Linked DNA regions of Homo sapiens: region 2 is linked to region 1. Evidence: fine-mapped expression QTL. A gene starts in region 1. The other region holds a variant in brackets. All regions are shown on one strand. Distances are between the middles of the regions. Region 1 holds the start of CASC18 (cancer susceptibility 18). Region 2 overlaps C12orf75 (chromosome 12 open reading frame 75).

What was found.
Region 2: its variant is fine-mapped to the expression of CASC18 in tibial artery (GTEx, PIP 0.92).

Annotation. Positions count from the first base shown.
Region 1 is chr12:105,702,592-105,705,618 of GRCh38, reverse strand. CASC18 (cancer susceptibility 18) reads right to left here and starts at 1,416. Exons shown (of 5, transcript NR_110109.1): 1 at 1,363-1,416. LOC105369959 (a long non-coding RNA gene) reads left to right here. Exons shown (of 3, transcript XR_945309.3): 3 at 53-503.
Region 2 is chr12:105,331,004-105,333,503 of GRCh38, reverse strand. The region is part of intron 1 of C12orf75 (chromosome 12 open reading frame 75); the gene reads right to left. Among named protein-coding and RNA genes, the nearest start is that of C12orf75, 1.6 kb to the right of the region's middle. RefSeq lists an enhancer at 1,188-1,731 and a silencer at 2,388-2,487. The variant A/G (reference allele first, on the strand shown) is at 991.

The DNA.
Region 1 (3,027 bases):
CCTGTAGAAGAATGAGAAGACAAACAGCTGACTTTTTTCTAATTTTTAACAGCTACTTGTGGACCAAGGTGACACTTAGGAATCCCAAGAAGCTCCAGCCATAAAGGGAGTCGGTATCCTTCCTCCAATTGTAAACCCCAGCACTCCCACTGAACACACTGGCCATGCCAAAAGTTCACACATCGGCCACGCAAAGAGCTCAAAGAGATCCATTCAGTACCTGGGAAGGCACGATCACTACGGGGAGAATCAGAAACCACGCGATCGCCAGGTGGCCTTCAAAGAAGCCTCCTCCCAGAAGGTCCAGAATCCCATCCAGAGACATTTCTGTCACTCTTCTCAAGCCACCTCATCATCTCTCTCTGCAGTTGAACTGCTGATGTTTCTGAGATTGTGGGTTTGTTCAAAATGAAGCTTGGCAGAATCATAATTTATAGGCTAATATTTTGTAAGTAGAGACAATTCATGACTTAGAATCTTATGAATAAATTGCTCCTGTTTTATTGCTCTGTGTGTGTGTGTGTGTGGGTGTGGGTGTGGGTGTGGGTGTGTGTGCATATAACTTTTCTTTTTCCACGTTTACCTCTTGAGTGGGCCCATTAAACTGAGAAGTACTGCGTGAGGTCTTGAGATAGCACAAGCCTTCGCCACCCCTGTAAAGGTGTGACGTGTGTCTAGGCAAAACCCTGGCAGGTCTCCAGGCGGTCCTTCTGAGTTAGGGCTCTGAACACTCTCTCTTAAAGCCCTGAGCTATGAACACAGCTTTGAACGGGACAGAGAAAGACCAAGTCAGAGGGGGAGCAGCTGTGTCTTTCTCCTCTCTGCTTCATTATAGACAAAATTGACCTCTGGGCCAAGTCTCATTAACTAATTGAAGAGTTCATAGTCACACAGTGTTTCTCAAAACGAGATTCAGAGAACACGAGCATCAGAAACACCTGAAGTGTTTGTTGGAATTGCAGCTACCTGGGCCCCATTTGGTGCCTGTTGAATCAGAATCTGTGGTATAAGAACCTAAGATCTGCATTTCCAATACACTTATAAGTTGAGTGTCAAGCACAGTAAAGTTTGGGCAGCCCGTCCCTTAATCTTTTCACATCCCGTCAGATTACAGATTTATATTTTAACAAAAGCCTTTATTTCCATAAGCCAACAGGGGAACTTCAGATACTGCTGTGGGGCAGCAGGGGAGATGTTGTTAAGCAAAGGGAGAAGGGCTTCCAGCGCCTCTTGATTTTTTCTGCAGAGGTAGCTGCACATGCAGCTGGTCAGAGTTTACCTTCTATGTCCTACCCCTGTGAATGCACCCCAGAGCTGGAGCACGCATTGAGGTCAGGGGGGCGCCTACCTGGAAGGACCTACCTGGAAACTGGATATCCAGTGAGGAGAGGAGAAGGGGCTGTCAGAAAATCAGCTCACCTCTAGACGGCGGCAACTCAGATAAGAGGAGCTTGTACTTCCGGTCTCTCCTCCCTCATCCCTTTCTGGTTGGGAAATTTTGTTCAAGCTACCGCTGTATGCTTCTGTTTTCTCTGAAGAAAATGGAGACTAATATTTATGCCTGCCTCAATAAATACATTTTTATTATAATTAATTTTGAAAGGTCCTGAGATTGGTAGGAAGATCACGTCCTCAGAGGCAGGTGTTGTGAACAGTGGATATGAAGTTGCATGGAAAATCTTCCACATGCTCAGTCCATCCCCAAGGGAAAAGGAATGTCTGGTGGGAAGTGAAGAGCTCTGAGCCCCTGCCTTCTCTGCTGCAGCACCCACCATCTTCCTCTTCTATTCCAGCCATGCGAGGCTTTTTTCTATTCCTTGAACCCAACAAACATTGCTCGTCTTCAGCCAGGATTGGGAAGCACTGCTCAATCCACTGCTGTATATAAATCTAGCTCACGGGTTGGGACTTTTCAGGCAGGGAAAGGCTCATTAGGAAACTGAGGCTGATTTTGGATGTTTCCAGGTCAGGAAGGTTGTATGTGTAGGTTTTCTTCTGCATTGGGCACAGAACATTGGATGGTCATTCTCATTCCCATCTTTGGCAAGGGCTGGGATGAAGTATGTGCTGGTGGTTCCTGAGCTGCCTAGCAGAGACGTGGGCTTGGGGAGGAGGACATTTTCTTTCCAGCAGGTGCTCGAGAGGACTCAAAGAGGTGATGAATGGAGCAAACAGAGCCTGGACTCCATCCAGGTAGACAGGGCTTATACCCAAATCTGTCACTTACTAGTTGTATGATCTTGGTTAAGCCTTAGTTTCCTCCTCTATAAAATGACTCTAAATAGTAACACCTACCTCAGAGTTGTTATGAAGATTAACAGACATAAGGTGTGTAAACCAATTACACTGTGTCTAGTACACATGACTGCCCTGTTCATACTAACTATGGTGATTTGATGTTTGGGAGCCACGCTTTTTAGTCTTTAAGGTCTGTGTAATCTCGCTGTCTTGTTTTATTTTATATTTCCCCATTTATTCTCTATTCTCGCTCCTGTTTCCTCCCATTTCCCTCTCCTGTCTTCCTTCCTGGGATTTCTTATATGTCCTTAGATTATCTCCAAAAAACACAGAACTTGGTTTTGTGTGTATATTAAAGTTTAATATCCTTAAGTAGTAACGTGCTATAAATCGTTTACCACCTTTTGCACTCAACACTAAGATTTTTAGAGGTATCCATATTATGGTTTGCCAGTGGTTCTCAACTTCACTATGAAACAGAATCACTTGGGAGCTTTTGAAAAATTTCAATACCTGGACCTCCATTCCAGTTATTCTGATTTAATTTGTCTAGGGTGCGGGCCAAGCCTCAGGTCATTCTAAAGTGCAGCCAGGATTGAGAAGCACTGCTCAATCCACTGCTGTATATAAATCTAGCTCACAGGTTGGGACTTCTCAGGCAGGGAAAAGCCCGGGGTTCACCTTTTTCTGCCTCACCAAGTCTCTGCAGTAAAATCAGGTGATGACGACCCTAAGGACAGCGTTAAAAGGAAAAAGAAGAGAGGAGAAGGCAACTTGCAGCCTAAGGCA
Region 2 (2,500 bases), 370 kb after region 1:
GAATTCTATGACTCCTGGGACATATTGGAAGTAGTGCACTGTAAGTAACTAGAAGAGAAAGACAATATCTCTTTAACGCGTTTCGTATTGCTCGGGTTCAGTCCTCCTAGTGTGCAGCTTGGTCAACAGTGCAATTGACGCTGATGCCCAAGCTCACAGCTGAGATTTTCAGTACCTTTGCATTGTGGTTTATTTTTCTTTACATCTCTCATCCTGATGTATTTCCTCTCTGAACCTAAATTCCTAACACCAACTGACAGAACATTTCAAAATAACAATGACCAAATCCCAAAGTCAGCCAGGTGGACTCACAGGCAGGCAAATGTTTGGGAATGGCTTCTCCAAGACAAGGGCATATCCATCAAAGAGGTGATGCAATAACTCCCTGCTCATCATGTTGTCTCCTGCATGTTTTGAATCTGCACTCAATATCCTTCTCTCCTCTGAACAAAAAGTAATTTTTGGCAAACAGCAAGCTGGAGGAGAGAATAGCATGCTCTCACATGCACTGTCCACAAACAAAAGTGAGGCTGCTCCTCAAACTACTCTTTCGGTAGCTTTTTTTTTTTTTTTCAATATGACTTCCCTTTAGGTGATAAGAGAGATGCTCCTAGGGAAAAAGTCAATCAAATATTCATAAAGATAATCATATTTCCCCAAGAAATCATATTTTCCCCCCAAATTTGATTTTTACATTAACATTTTAGAGCTAGCTCATCATACCTTACCATCTTTCTATTTTCTTTTCTTTTCTTTTTTTTTTTTTTTAGATGGAGCGGAGTTCCACTCTTGTTGCCCAGGTTGGAGTGCAATGGTGCGATCTCAGCTCACTGCAACCTCCGCCTCCCAGGTTCAAGCAATTCTCGTGCCTCAGCCTCCCAAATAGCTGGGATTACAAGCAGGCGCCACCACGCCCAGCTAATTTTGTATTTTTAGTAGAGACTGGGTTTCACCATGTTGGTTACACTGGTCTCGAGTTCCTGAGCTCAG[A/G]TGATCCACCCACCCCAGCCTCCCAAAGTGCTGGGATTACACAGGCATGAGTCACTGCGCCTGGTCCATCATTCTGATTTTCATTTGGCAATGGTACCCCCTCCCCATCCCTAAAACTGACAAGCAGTTCATTAATAAATCAAAATGTACATGCATGAAACTAGCCTCATTTTAAGGGAAATCTGCTACAAATCCTTCCTACAATTTTTTTTAATGTGGATAACTTTTCTTCACCTTTTTTAAGTAGGCTACACATGCAGTGGATTGCATACGGCCACAGTACCTAGTAGACTGAGACACAATTTGAGTGCGGGGTGTGGCCCTGACATTGTTTCATACAAGCAGAGCTTTCTGGCCACAGGCAGGTTTGAAGCCCGTCTGCCCTCATTAGCATAAGGTGCTACACTAACCTTCCCCACTGTTAAATGAATCTAAAAAGTTCGCTCTCCTGTGGCTCTCTGCATTGTCACCAGGACAGGATTTAATTCAAGACTCAAATTGAGTCTTAAACTCCATTTTTTACCGGCGTCTGGGTTAAGGGATGTGACAGGCCCAAGGTTACAAAGTCATTGCCAGGGCCTCCACAGCCGCCTAGGAAATACCGCAGCCTCTGACTGCTGTTTGCATTTGCTGGTTAGGCTAGGATGTGGCATCTGGTTGACTTCAATTGGAGGAGATAGGAGCTCTTTATCCAAAAGGACACTGAAATAGGTCAGCAGTTATTACTCAAAACAGATCCAGGGTACCTTAAATCCCGAGACATAGGCAGGGTGAAATAGAAGGGTGAGTTTTGGCAAAAGTCACTTGACACAAAGCCTGGCTGGCCCGGGGAAGCTAGAAGACCTTGCCTGCCAATCAACATGAAGTGGTATAAAAAGAAGTTTCTATTTGTGTGTGTGTGTGTGTGTGTGTGTGTGTGTGTTTAATGAAAAGTATCTTAACAGACTGTTAATAATAAAGCTCTGTCTCACATATGTAAAACATCCTTACTGCTGCAGCTTCTCAGAGAAATCCTAAGAGCAGCCCAGCCGGTCTTCGGCATCAAGGCAGACACAGATGCGTTTTTGCAGCTCTGCTTCTAGTTCTCCCCAACCCCACTCCCACCCTTCCCCGCTTCCTGCCCCACCACCACTGCCCGAAAAGTCCTGTCTTGCTCTGCTGCACTTTTCCAGGTGCAGCGCCTTGGTTCCGAGGAGATGGGGGAGAGGCCTGGAGGAGCAAGTGTGGGAGGTGGGGGAGCGGCCGGGGACCACGTCCGGGAATCCTCTCCCCCAGGAGAGCCCTGAGACCCGCCAGCTGCAGGTGAGCCCCGGCGGCTGCAGGGGAGCCCGCGACAGTCCTCCCCGCGCTCCCTCGGCAGAGACGCCCCGCAGGCTCGACTGCTCCAGGCGCAACCGCCCCCGCGCGGGGGACTTGCCACGCTTTCGGTCTTTCCAGAAACGGGCGGTCTGCTCCTGTCCCGAAAATGGGGACGGGGAGAGGGGGCTGCGCGCCCCCCACCCAAGATCCC